Linked DNA regions of Homo sapiens. The protein of the gene in region 2 purifies or fractionates together with the protein of the main gene of each other region. This does not show direct contact. Each region holds a gene or a part of one and is shown on either strand. Other genes may lie near its edges.

What was found. Proteins that work in one complex are often made in the same cells at the same time.
Region 1: the proteins of SLC7A11 (region 2) and THADA purify together in Homo sapiens (affinity purification with mass spectrometry; one large-scale study listed by BioGRID and IntAct). This does not show direct contact.
Region 3: the proteins of SLC7A11 (region 2) and PDXDC1 purify together in Homo sapiens (affinity purification with mass spectrometry; one large-scale study listed by BioGRID and IntAct). This does not show direct contact.
Region 4: the proteins of SLC7A11 (region 2) and PPP6R3 purify together in Homo sapiens (affinity purification with mass spectrometry; one large-scale study listed by BioGRID and IntAct). This does not show direct contact.

Annotation. Positions count from the first base shown.
Region 1 is NC_000002.12:43,585,611-43,589,538, reverse strand, and holds part of THADA (tRNA (32-2'-O)-methyltransferase regulator THADA), read left to right. Parts: intron 1-2,536; coding exon 2,537-2,685; intron 2,686-2,804; coding exon 2,805-2,837; intron 2,838-3,089; coding exon 3,090-3,138; intron 3,139-3,928. UniProt on the Homo sapiens protein: Together with methyltransferase FTSJ1, methylates the 2'-O-ribose of nucleotides at position 32 of the anticodon loop of substrate tRNAs.
Region 2 is NC_000004.12:138,163,082-138,166,816, forward strand, and holds the end of SLC7A11 (cystine/glutamate transporter), read right to left. Parts: 3' UTR 1,016-3,735; downstream 1-1,015. UniProt on the Homo sapiens protein: Heterodimer with SLC3A2, that functions as an antiporter by mediating the exchange of extracellular anionic L-cystine and intracellular L-glutamate across the cellular plasma membrane.
Region 3 is NC_000016.10:15,034,026-15,036,856, reverse strand, and holds part of PDXDC1 (pyridoxal-dependent decarboxylase domain-containing protein 1), read right to left. Parts: intron 2,572-2,831; coding exon 2,479-2,571; intron 2,401-2,478; coding exon 2,304-2,400; intron 1,409-2,303; coding exon 1,304-1,408; intron 907-1,303; coding exon of another isoform or gene 842-906; coding exon 582-841; 3' UTR 1-581.
Region 4 is NC_000011.10:68,572,252-68,576,179, reverse strand, and holds part of PPP6R3 (serine/threonine-protein phosphatase 6 regulatory subunit 3), read right to left. Parts: intron 2,072-3,928; coding exon 1,956-2,071; intron 223-1,955; coding exon 137-222; intron 1-136.

The DNA.
Region 1 (3,928 bases), on a different chromosome or scaffold from region 2:
ATTGCAGTGCAATGATCTCTAGAACCTTGTCATCTGCTAAGCTCTGAAACTGTATACATTAAGTAACAACTCTCCATTTCCTGCTCAGCCCTTGGCAGCCACTTTCCGTTCATAAATTTGATTACTTTAGATACCTCATATTAGTGTAATATTTGTATTTATATTTTTGTGACTGACTTATTTCACTTAACATAATGTCCTTAAGGTTCATCCCTGTTATAGCATATGACAGGATTTTCTTCTCTTATAAGGCTTAATATTCTGTTGTATGCATATACTGCATTTTTTTCATCCATGCATCTTTCAATGGACATTTGGGTTGCTTCCACTGCTTGCCTGTTGTGAATAATGCTGCTATGAACATGGGTGTGCAAATATCTATTTGAGATCCTGCTTTCAGTTCTTTGGATATATACCCAGAAGTGGGATTGCTGGACCATATGGTAATACTATTTGTAATTTTTTGAGCAACTGTCATACTGTTTTCCATATGCAACATTTTACATTCCCACCAGCAGTCCTTACTTTTTCAGCTATAAATATTCTGTAATATGAATATACCAAAATTTAAATGTACCATATATATGACATGTATGTATCTATATATGGTACATATTACATGATTTATATTACATGGTATAAAGTAATTTAATCACTTCCCCATTGCAGTGATATTCTTATGTATATAATTATATATGTGTATTTCTCTGAGATAAATTCCAAGAAGTGGAATTTCTGGACCAAAAATTAGGCCTATTGAAATTCTTGGTAGATATTGTTAAATTGTACTCCCCCAGACTACCCATTGAATTAGAATGCTTGTTTCTTCTTCATATATTTCCAACATTGGATACTATCAATCTTTAAATCTTTTAAAATCTAATGAAGGAAAATGCTATCATTATAATTTGTGTATCCCAGATTACTAGTGTAATTGAACATTTTTTAATGTGTGGAATTTGACTTTTTTTATTACATATTCTTTGTACATTTTCTTGTTAGAATGTTTTCTTGATTTATAAGACTTCTCTATAGATCATATGCCAAATACATTCCTTTGTTACTTGTCTTTAACTTTCTCATGGTGTCTTGTCTTTACAAAAATTAAAATATTATTTTGGTTATCAATTCAGCTAATTTTTGTGTATGTAGATTTCTGAGTTTTATACCTTGCTATATGTGCTTTCTGTAATACAAGATTATTTAAAACATTATTTGCAGGCCTTATACTATTTTTTTTTTTTTTGCTCAACTTTTATGTCCATCTGGAATTAAGCTTTGAATGTAGTGTGAGGTAGGGATTCAATTTAGTTTTCTTTTTTATATGGGGAACCACTTACCCAAACTGTTGAATCGTCCATCTTTGCCCACATATTTGGAATGCCACCTTATTGTGTTATATGTTCACATATATACATGGGTTTGATTTCTGAGTTAGGTCCAATTATTCATACACCAACACCACACTTTTATTTACTATAGTTTGATAAAGTGTTTTAATTATATGTCAGTGTTAAGTCATCCCTCTAGTGACTCTTCTTATTCTGAATATTCCCATTTTTGAATTATTTTCTTCCAGAAAAACTTTGAACTGTCCAGTTATATTTAAAACAAAGCCAATCAGTTTTGATGTATATAAATTGAGGCAAAATTGATATGTTTAATTTACTCATTTGATAAATTTTTATTGACTGCCTACTGTGTTTCAGCACTCTTCTAGGAACTGGGGGTAGAATGAATGAAACAGTCCAGAATGGAGGTTACATTCTAAGGGGAAGATAGAAAATAGACAAAATAAATAAGTAACATTTATAGGATATTAGATGGCATGAGTGCTATCTAAAAGCGGGAAGGAAGGAAAGGGGACATAAAGGATGGGGTGAGGGTTACAATTTAAAATATTATGGTCACTTCATATAGCTTTGCTCAGACATGATAAGGTAATTGAGATTGACCTGAAAGGGATGAGGCAGTGATTGCTGGGTATATTTGAAGGAAGAGTATTTTGGATGGAGGAAACAGCAGAAGCAAAGACTGGTATGTCAGAACAGAGCAAGGCCATGTAGCTAGAGCTAAGTGAACAAAGATCAAGATGAGGTCAGGATTGTGATAGATGCCATTTTAAAAATCAAGAAAAGAAAAAAAATAAATAAAGATGAGGTCAGGAGCTAATGGTAGTGCCAGATTGTATCGGGAGGACCTTGTAGGTCACTGTAAACACTTCAACTAGTACTTTAACCGAGAAGGATATTGTTGGAGGTTTTAGTAAGAGAAGTGACATGGTGTTTTAACGGTGTCACTCTGCCTGTTCTGTTGAGAATAATCTGGGAGATGGGAGAGAAGCAAGGTGGAAGCAGGGAGACCAGATGTGCTGACAAGCCAGGAAATTCGAGTGATGGTAGTGTGTAGTTGTAGTTTTCTGGCTGTATTTTGAAGATTTAGTTCAGTATTCCCACATTTGTATGATTCTCTTCCCTCTCCACATATTCTGGGGCTATTAGATTGTCAGATTTTTAATATTTGTTTCTTTTTCTAGCTCACTAAATAGCCTGCCTGATTTTTTTCTACCTGAGGCTATGCACCGTTTTACTTCTCGTCTTCAGGAAGAATTGAATACTACTGACTTATACTCTTACAGGAAAGTTACTGACAATATTTCTTCCTGTATGGAGAACTTTAACTTGGGTAAGGCTGCACTTTTCTAGTCCTTTTTCTGGCTAACCCCTCTCATCACATCATAGTTTTTAAATGACATTGATTTTGGTCGTGAAACTCCTTACCAGTGTTCATTTTTTCCTCTACAGGTAGAGCAAGTGTTAATAATCTGCTTAAAAATGGTAAGTCCTATTATTTTATTTTGTTCCATGAGTTGATGGCTTGTATGAGTCATTTTGGAACTGGCTCTTTTAAGTTTCTTGGTAATAGGTAGAGCATTGTAGATAACTTAGGTACATCATGACCCTTCCTTTTAAATTTTTGTTTCCATATCATGATATCATTTTGGATAACAGTGATATAAAATATTTTATTTTATTGAAATTGAGCTTCACAGTTTTAAATTCTTATTTGTCATATTCTTTTTGTTTCAGTGCTTCATTTTCTGCAGAAGAGTTTAATTGAAATCCTGGAAGAAAATAGGCAAGTGCTATATGTTGGCATTTGTGTGTGCACACTTGCAGTTGTACATTATCTTTGTACAAAGAAAAATTTAAAAGTCTCAGAATGTGATCTTTTCATCCCTTTTCATTAATATTATCACTTTTATATTTTTTTTGAGATGGGGTCTTGCTGTGTCACCCAGGCTGTAGTGCAGTGGTGTGATCATAGCTCGCTGCAGCCTCAACCTCCTGGGCTCAAGTGTTTGTATCACCTCAGCTTCCCACGTAGCTGGGACTACAGGCATGCACCACCACACCCAGATAGTTTTTTTTATTTTTTTGGAGACAGAGTCTCACTATGTTGCCCAGGCTGGTCTTAAACTACTGGACTGAAGTAATGTGCCCGCTTTAGCCTCCCGAAGTGTTGAGATTACAGGCGTTAGTCACTATGCCCAGCCCCTTTCTCCATTAATATTAGACCCAATTATTTAAAATTTTTTTTAGAGGTTTGATATTTAATTTTAATAAATTCAAAGTTTTTATATTTGAACTTTATTAAAATATTTAAATGAAAAATTAAAAATTTAATAAATTGTTATGAGAATAAGTGAAAGAACTCTTTTCCTCACCTGAGTGTGTTCCTTTTTCATAGCATCCTGTTTTATTTTGTGAGTGAAATATCCTCTGTTACTTCTCTGAGGATATATTCATGATAGTTTTTTTGTTTTTTATCATCTTTACATAGTCTTTGTTTCTTCCAAGTTGCTTTTTTCTGTTTGCTGGTTTTGTTCAGTATATTTCTTATTAGAAGCTTTCCTCAGAAGTCTGGT
Region 2 (3,735 bases):
CTGTTTCCATAGAAGCTAATGGATTGCTTAAATTTAGGAGTAACAAAACCTGCTTCTATGCTAATCATAAAAAAGCTAACCCTGCAACCTAATGAATGTCATTTATTCATGCATGCACTGAAATTATACATTTAATAAATATTAATTGAGCACCTACTATGCTTCAGTTGGCGAAAGACAAAATCAGCAAATTCAGGCAGAAAAGTGAGTCCAGTAAATCAATTACAGCAGTGTTCAATGAGTTCTACAAAAAAGATGTGCTCCAGATGATGAATGCGTTCAGGTGTCAGGTCTTAAAGCAACTTGGGGAAGGCTTCTGGAAGAGGTTACTTTTGAACTTAAATGTTGGGTAGAAGTTAACTGTGTGTGGAATAAGGAGATGGGAGTTGGGGAGGAAAATATAATTAATTCCTGTAAGAGTATTCAGTGTGTAAAAAGAAATAATGGCATCATATTTTGTTGCTATTGAACCACTGAGAACACATTTAATATGGCTGCCGAGAATGTGGAAAGCTGGAGAAAGAAAGGTGACAGGTGATGGAAAGCCCTATGTGTTACATGGAGGAGTTTGAATTTTATCCATCCACAAAATAAAATATATATATATATATATATATAAATGTGAAACCATTGAAAATTTTGACCTCATTTGAGTTTCAGGAAGAACATTCTGGGGAAACAGTTGAGAGTGTAAAGAGATAAAAGACAAAATTCTTGTTAAAGGCCTGAAATGAAAAGATTTTGAACTTGTACAGGTGGAAATAGAAGAGGAGCTAGATATTTCAGACCAGAGGACAGATGGATGTAGACCATGAGAAAGAAAAGAAGAGTGTTTCCAGGAGACTGGGTCTGCCAACACTTCCAGTTTTTAGTACAGGAAACTGGTGTAAAGTGGGATGCTCCAACAAATTTGGGGAATCAGTAATAGATAAATTCAATCAATCATTAAAACTAAGGCCTTCAATTTAAATGAATATACACTGCTTAAAAAGAAAGCAAAACATGACGACATTTATTATGTAAACTATCAAATGTTTATTTAAATTTCCATTTAAAATATTTTCAAGTAAAATATGTACAAAAATGGTTATAAAATGGTTGAAGCAACTAGAAGCGTGACAGGTATAATACATATAAATACAACCAAAATTCAATTCAATGCAAAGTTGAATGACATCATATTGCACCAAAATTTATTCCATACAAAAGCACATGCATCAAGAGTTTCCATAAGATGAAAACAAACACACTTACTTCATAGCATCTTACCACTTACTTACACAAATAGCCCATAAACACCATCTGGCATTGTGATTGCAGTACCAGAACTCTCCCCAGAGGGAACTCATTTAGCTATAGAAGAATCCATTTTATTTCACATATCACATGCTTGTGCAGGCATCAGTGCTAGGAACCCTAAGAAACAACGCAATCCACAGATGAAAGTCTCTCTGCACCATTTATATCTTCATAGATAAATATCTTAGTTCTAATATGATTGGAATGTGGATGCAGAAATAAAATGCAGTTTTGCTCTTTAAGAATTTTATCAATGTAAGACATTGTATTAAATTTGTATAAAATACACACAATCCCCTCTACTAAGTTTCATGATCACAGTGCCAGAGTGAAGAAACTCTGCTTGAGTTGAGGACCAGTTAGTTAGGATATTGAGGATCACTCTTTTTCAGCTGGATCTCTCTGTTCTTGTGTTTTCAATCACTAGACCAAACCCACGATGCCCCTGAAATTCTGGGAATGGTACAAGGTCATAACTAATGCATTCCAGATCCAAGTTAGGGATTTAGCTGGTCTATAAATTACAGTTTAAGCACAGATCAAAGAGATGGCTGCCAGCATATCCTTCAAGGGTAACCTGAGTTCCAAGACTTTCCCACTGGGCTAAATGGACTCCACTTGTTGCAAATTATAAATGCTTGTCACAGAATATGAAAAATATTTAAATACATTCATAGATAGTACCTAATAATATGTTAACATAAACATAACAACACACATATTATTTTTCTACCCCTTGGCAACTGAAAATGAAGTTACCATTCCTAGGCCAAATTTTTAGACAAAGCTTTCTAAAACCATCTTTATAAAGTAAATTCAGATATGCTTACAATAAAAAGACATAAAAGATTCATCCTGAGATGAATTCTGAGTCAATAACTAAAAACCATTTCTACCAGTGCATCACTACCATGTAATCCATTCTACGCAAGCTCTACAAATATTGAGTCAAATCCTGTCTGTCAGAAAATGAAGACCCAATAAGTTTGCCGAAGTATTCAGTACAAGAGGCCATTTGTCTTGCCTTTTTCTGACATGTGCATACTATAAAATCACAGGTAGCCAACATTTAGTATCAGTAAAAAACAACTACGTTTGTTCACCTGTTTGGCATAGGGAGAAAACAATGTATCTCATAGCATTAAATGATACAGCCTTAACACATATGATGCTCATATTTGCAAAGTTCCCAAATGTTGAGAAGTTCTAGTGAAAAGTCATACTATTGTGCAAAGATGAAAATTTGGAGCCAATGTCTGTATTCAAAATAACCAAAATATATTTTAAAGCAAAATATATCCTGATACTACTATAGATTCTAGGAATTGTCCTAAAAGAGTAAAGTGTTGTTTCCTTTCTGAACATGAATAACATCAAAGGAAGAACCCAGTTCTTAAGACTTAAGTAGGAAATTTATAGAAATTTGATTTATACCAGTAGTAATAACATTCATAAGGAAAAACTATTAGGTAACAATTTTCTCCAAGAAGAGGATCAGATTACTTAAAATTGTTGGAGAATTCTGGTTGTTTGTGCAATAATCATAGTGATTTACATTGCTTTTCTTCTTTCAGAGCAATAAGAAAGTTATTTGGGGTAGTACTTGAAATAATTCATATACACAGTCATTTAACATAGATCGTTTCTAGTCGAGTATGAGCATACATTCATGGGAACAATCTGTTTCATTCTTCAAAGTATGTTTGTACTTTGGAATGAAGGAGAAATTCTAGGGAAAAATTAATTCAGAAATCTTTTGAAATAAGACAGTTCAAACCTAGGACCAGGTAACCACATTGCATTGCCTCCCAGTGTGATATGACTGTGCTTCCAAGTATGCATCTAATAAAGTTAGTTAGTAGGAAAATTTGATGTCTAAATTTTATAATACACATTTAAGTCAGACCACTCACAACCCAACAAATTATACAGCTTTAACATGCAAAGGCCTAATAGGTTTTCCCACAAGATGCTGTAATAATACCCTGTCACACAAGGTACTCAAAATACAGTCACCACTGCAAAAGAGATACCTGTGCATTACTCTTTTTTTCCCCTCTGGCTTTCAGCACGGCCTTCTGAGGCTTTAACAAGAGGTAATAAGGACTTAGCAAGCAGTTCTCCTAACCAATACATTAATTCACTTGAAAGTCATACTTTTAAAAAAAATCAGTAGTGTATATGTTGAGGAAAAAAAGCATGTTCACTCTGGAACAAAGTTGGCCCTCTATGGCTCTCAGATGCCTAATGCTCTACAGTTTTGTGAGAGAATTGTTAACTGTAAAGCTGTAAAGGCGGTTATTGGTACTATAAATGTACACTTGATTCAAGTACGCTGAAACACACACATGTAACAGCTATTAGGACACTGTAACCGTCCTCTGTGTATTTTAAGGCCAATAGTAACAGAGAGGAGGGAAAAAAATAACTACCAAG
Region 3 (2,831 bases), on a different chromosome or scaffold from region 2:
AGCTCAAGTAGACACAGTCCTTACTAAGTCTCCACGAAGAGCAGTAGCTGGGGAGGGCTTCTGATGCTCTTATTTACAATCCCACAATCACTGCTCTCCTTCAAGTCTAGCAGTCCCACTGTATATTGCAACTTGATCGTACTAAAGACCGACAGCAAAGGATACAGCCAGTCTCGCCTCTGTGAAGTGTTGCAGAGAACCTGGAGAGTGCTAATGAAAAGCTGTTTTACCAAAAAGTTGCCACGGGCAACCTCATATACTTAGGCTTATGTTTAGAAAGAGCAAGGGTGCTACTGGTAGACACTTGAAATTCGAAGTGTTTTTTGTGAATAAAATGTGTTTATGGTAACTTAGGGAAAAGTCGTAGTAGGACAGCAAACGTGGTTCTACATGTACATGAAGTTAGACAAGCTGACTCCCCTCCTAGAAAGCCTACCTTTCAGGCACATATTTGTGCCAAAATCCCAGTGAAGCACAAACAACAGTAATTTATATTAGTATGTGGCACAGTTCACATTTCCAATAGAACTTCATCTTCCCTGAAACAATACTCAGTACAGTCTCAAACCACACAATGAGTCTCATCTTAAGCTCTCCGGTCCTTCTACCTGTGAGTGGTCATCTTCTGGGTGTGGGACCCCTTTCTGGAAGGCCTCGGTCTGGTCGGTGTGCTGAGGGCTGGGAGCCCCTGGGTGTCCCTCAGTGCTGCTGGCCTCGAGGGTGATCTGCTCCGGCCCACTGGATAGGCGCTCCACCTTTTCTAAGTCTTCAATGTGACTGACTGAGCTGGTCTCACTCAAAGCATCTGAACCTCGCAGGGACCTTTTAAAAGGCTTCTGGCCTACAGAAAGGGCAGACAGACTGCGCTGAAACTCAGTGAGGATACTTCTGCAACACAGGCTGTCTCTGCAACAGATAATTGCTTTATTTCACAACACAGCTTCAGCAGAAACCTTTACTGGCTCTGAGGTGTTTTAGGAGATGAGAAAACCGAGAGCTGCTAGCTTGACACCAACATGCTCCCCAGGCCGGGGAACTCTAAGGTCATCTTCATTAGGAAACGCCCAGGAGGGTAAACACCACAGTGACAATGTCATCTTTCAAGACCCCAACTTCCCCTTAGCGCACTACCGTGGGATTTCTTCAAGGCTGAATCCCACGGCTACCAAGATGGTTAAAGAGATGGTAGTAGTTGGTCTTAAGAGAAATAGACCTCTGGAGTTCAAGAACCCAGAAAACAAACGCAAGTAACAGTCAACAGGGGAAACCTGTTACCTGAACTCGGTGCAGAGGCGTCACTTACCTGGAAGCCTCTGCTTGGTGCGACTGCCCGAGGGCGTTGGAGGCAGCGTGACTCCTGCACCTTGTGCTTTGTAGACATATATGGGTTCTGTGGACTCCAGAGAGCCTGCGGGAGAGGAGAGGGCTGGGTAGAAGCTACAGGCACAGGCTGCCCTTGAAGACACCACCTGCCCTCACACAGCCTTGCTCCCCAATAACCTCCTTCCAGCCACTGAGCCTGCCACAGACTGGTGGAGAGAAGGGCACTTATGAATGTGCCGTGAGCTAGAGAAAGCCACCTCACAGGGCCAGTACCGCCAGCATCCGCCAGCAGTATGGCGTAAGCACACCCAGGGAGCCAGGCCCAACAGGGAAACGTACTGTAGCCACAAGAAGTGGGTGCCTTTTTGCTGAAGGCTAAGGCTTGGCAGATTAGAAATCAGATTATCTTTTGCTTTCATGACAATGGAGTCATCGTTTCCTGGGAAAGAATGAAGGAAGGGGCTCGAGTGTAGGAAATTATTTCCTTGGTAGAACAGGAAAGGAGTCACGGACTGTTAACACCCTCCCCACATTCCAGCGGCTGAAACGCTTGCTGGCTGCCTGGTTCAAAATAAACCGTGCCAGCACTCCATGCTTCAGTCTCTGCATTGCCACTTGCAAAAGCTGTCCTCTGCTGGGGCAGAACACACATGAAGACAAGAAGTATTAACCCTGAACCAAAATGCCCAAGACACAGCACCCTGAGAGTCTGCACGGCTGAGTGGGCGTGTCCTCATGGCCTTGCGGTGGTGACAGCTGTGGAGAGTGGGTAGCTGCTTCCTTGCTGTTTCAGCCGCCAGGGTGCGGTGGGGAGGAGGACAGGGCACACCAGAACTTGTCTCCTCAGATGTCCGGCCCACACCCAGTGATGAAGAACGGGAACCAGGGCGGGATTCTCAGTGGGAAGTGTTGGGACCCAAGGGCATTTGGTGAAACCTCCCAAGGTCAGCAAGACCTGGGAAGAGGCTATGCCGTCCTACCTGCTGTCAAGTTAAAAGTTCTTCCCTTCTGTAAAGCCTGGACCGGAGAAAACCAATTCAGCACGGAGCCCACTACAGGGATCTGCCGCAACACCCCCTGCAAGACAGGACCAGAGTTCAGGGCCACCTGGCCTCACGGCGGCTCCCCCAGCCTGCTGCCCATCGGGGGCCTCACCTCTTCCAGAAGCCGTTCTTCACTTGCCTTCTGCAGCTCCACTTGAGCTTCCTGAATGCCTTTCCGAACCACTTCTGTCATGTTTTCCAGAAGCTGTGGCAAGACCAAGAAAGACATTACTTGTTTAAGGTTCTCACCTGGGGCCCAGAAGAGCTAGTAACACAGCACTGAGGGAATTTTTCAAAAGCAGGTCAATGAAATCCTGCATTGAAAAGCCGGCGTAAAACGAACAGAAACTCAAAGACAAGCAGATAACATGCTCATAGAGGCCTAGGCAGACACACCTTGGTGACCAGCCTCATTTGCTACGTATTCTTGAAAACAGAGAAGTCATAAAGTCAGGCTGGAAAGAA
Region 4 (3,928 bases), on a different chromosome or scaffold from region 2:
TCCCTGGTAAAGAGATAAGAATTTATCTTTGGCTCACAGTTACTGAGGTAAATGGAAGATCTTTTACATCTTTCTGAATAAATGGGCAAAGGCTAAGAGCACTGAAAGAATAAAAATGTAACCTTGTAAAACCTACTAGATCTACCGTGTTCCTCTTGTTAGTTTCTCCTAAGGAGCTTGTGCAGAACGTCTCCCATCGTTCCCTGACTTCGTCGGGAAGATCTTCAGAGTGAGAAAAGCAAAAAAGCATTATCACCACAATGACCTCCACGGAGACAAATAAAGTAAGCAGGTAATATAAAAGTGGGCCTACTCACCTGGTTCATCAATGGTGAGCAGGCCCTATCAGCTGAGAAACTGGGTGACAGCCAGCCCAGTGCTCTTAGAGAAATGGAATTATTAAACCTTCCATAGGCCCAAATCCCATGGACTTTCAGGAACCAGAATCCCCCTACCCAATGGTATAGGCTTGATGAGGCCAAGAGCCCTAAGGTAGCTTGTGAACTTAACAAGTTTCTGAAAATGCTCTGGTAGAAGCTTAACCTGGAAAGTGTGTTTCCAACAAGCTTTTCTGAGAAAGGTGGTAGGTGTTTAACGTGTCGGGGGTAGGGGGATCTTTTTCCATGGTCAAGTTAAGTCTAGAAAATGCTGCAAATGACAGCTCCTGCACACTTTCTTGAAATGCTCTCATTGGCAGCTGGCCAATGAATGTTCCACAGAACCTAGTATGGCTTTTCAAATTGCTCTAAGATCATGTTTCCTAAATATTTGTGTCATGGGCCAACGTGGATACACAGGTAATAGTGAAATTCTACCTTCTAGAGAAATGTTAAAGAAAAGGATAAACAACTGCTTTTCTGAGAAAATCAAACCATGACGTAATTTTAGAGGCCTAACTAGTCATCTGATAATTCTGGTTTAAAACAGCCATGCATGTGTGCACACTCACAGAAGTGTACACATGTACCACCTGGCAAGCAGCTTCCATAAAGGAAAGTCTGATCTAAAAACTCAGTCATATCACATGGCCATTTCTTCTTAGTTAGGACATAAAGATAAACTGTGTGGTGAAATGGCCCAAGGAAGAGGCTTATACCTCTTATGCCTCTCTCAAGAAGCAAAATTAGAAGTGGGCACACACCACTTTTTCCATCCCTGGTGACAACTGTGGTTTTAGTGCACATTCAACAGGGAATAGCCTCTTGAACAAACAAACATTCTTAAGAAAAAATGGAAGACCCACTGGGAAATGATTTTAACTGAACAAATTCTGTACCATGGATGTTAAAGACTGTTCACATTCAGAATAGGTCTCAGGATTGGTAATCCTGTTGGTACAAAAACCCAGAGTACACAGTTCTCTCATTTTAGAAGAAGGCTCATGGCTTGGGGCCAGTGTAAAAAAGCATCCATATAGTTTCTTCCAAATAAGCTTGGGCTGATTAAACTGAAATGCTATACAGAAAGAGTCCTTTAGAAGCCAATACCCCTCATTTTAGTGACAGCGACATCAAAGAAATGCTGATAAATGCCCTAATATTCCAGTTAAAGAAACTTAATTCAGAGGCTATATAGAGGCCTTCAGAAAATAAAAGGCAAAATTATAGCTGAAGTGGCTCAACTGCTAGCATATGAGTACTTCACACTCACAATACTCAAAAGCATGATTCACCAAGCAATGCTCTTTAAGAATGACAATAGGTGACTCTTATATGCTGAATCCAGCCAAGCCTGCCAATGCTTATGGAATGGTCTGTAACTACATGAACATAAATACAACCAAAAAACAACACTGTTCAAACACATTCTCAAGAACCTCATTCAAATACATAATTTGCCAAATATAAAGAAGTCCCACAAATCACTATTAAAAATGCTACATGCATTTCTACTTGACCCTTAAATCCTTCCTGCAACCCAACAAAAATGTAATTCAAATTTCACAAATAACTTACCTTTGATAAGCTGCTGCACTAATGCACTGTTGGGGCCCTTGTCAGTGCTGTGCACGATACAGTTAGCTATCCTCGTTAGGTGTCCCATGTAACCATGCCGTCTTCCTCCCTCAGCCCTGACAAGAGGTAAAGGACAAATACTCAGATTCCTGATAGGATGAAGTGATGAAACACTCGGTAAATACTGCGGACTTTTAAACAATCATTTTAAACCCTGAAGGCACTGAAGAAAATGACGATGGACAGAAAAGAAAAGAAAAACAAAGGAATGGAAGGTGCCAGAATATGACCATGCAGCATGGTCAGGGAGGGGTGTGAAATTGTAAAAGATTATATGGCAGCCTCAGTCAACAGGCCACAGTTTATTCGAATCTCAAAAATCATCACTCACTGTCAATAACACATTATTTTTTAAAAGATCAAATAAACCTTCTCTGATGCCTAATGTTATTGTGATTTTATTTTACATCTTTTTAATGAAACTTTTTCAAACCTTAATCAGATTATAAGGAACTGAGGTAAGAATTCTGCTGGTTCATTTTCTTAAAAGATAGCAAATTTTTATTATATCAATGAATAGAAATAATTATCTACCAATGACATGTCTCAAGTTAAGATATTAGCTGATGTGAGACTTGGCCAAGATAGGAGACAGTCAACTAGTACTTGACCATACACCATTCTGAACACATGCAAACAAACAGTCTTTGTCCTTTTCCCATTTAAGGTCTCATCTTCCCAACCATGATCAATCTTTACACTTAATTCGTATCAGGCCAGGCACAGTGGCTCACGCCTGTAATCCCAACACTTTGGGAGGCCAACACAGGTGGATCACTTGAGGTCAGGAGTTTGAGACCATCCTGGGCAACATGGCAAAACCCCATCTCTACTAAAAATACAAAAATTAGCCAGGCGTGGTGGTGCACACTTGAAATCCTAGCTACTCAGGAGGCTGAGGCAGGAAAATTTCTTGAACCCGGTAGGCAGAGACTGCAGTGAGCCAGGATTGTGCTACTGCACTCCAACCTGGGTGACAAAATAAGACTCCGTCTCAAAAAAAAAAAAATTATATATATATATATATATATATATATATATATATATATAAAATAAGTAAACTCATATTAATCTGATTTCTCTACCTATTTACAAAGTGCCAAGATTTTAAGCTCTATCAAACGAAAGATTTTTGACTGCAGATAGCAGGGAACAAACACTGCAGAGATTTTTGCTTAGAGAGAGAAAAGCCTTTCAGGAGCAATAAGAAAAAAAAAACATCCTATGCTTGAAGGCTTGCTTGGAAAATAAAGTATCTGCTAGAGAATCTTAGAGGGCTTGGGGGTGCCTAAGGGTAAGAAGTACAGGGTTGATTATTTAGGTAGAGACAAGGTCTTGCTTGTCATCCAGGCTGGAGTGCAGTGGTGCAATCACAGCTCATTGCAGCTTCAAACTCCTGGGCTCAGGCAATTCTCTCACTTCGGCCTCTTGAGTAGCTGGGACTATAGGCAAGTACCACCACATCCGGCTAATTTTTTGTAGAGCCAGGATCTCCCTATGTTGTCCAGACTGGTCTCGAACCCCTGGCCTCAACCAATCCTCCCATCTCAGCCTCCCAAAGCAGTGGGATTACAGGCATCTCCCACCGTGCCTGGCCAGAGTCAATCTTCACTGAGTTGCTCAGAGTCTCTTTTAGTTCTTCAGTAAGATCCAGAGAGCCAGGTGTTACCTACAGGCAACTGAGTCACTCTTCTGCACACCCTCAAGTACACAAGTGAAAGAAAACAAAGGCCCATCTCTAAGGTGACCCACAGCTTCAAACTGCTTCAGGCTGTTGTGCAAGGAAACAAGGAAAGTTCTTTCGGGATCCCCCTAGACAGAGGGAATGGTATTCACCAGGCCTCCAGAAAACGGGACTCACCAGGAGAGCAGGGCACAAAGGATATCTGAGCCCTGGCCAGATGAGGAGGCAG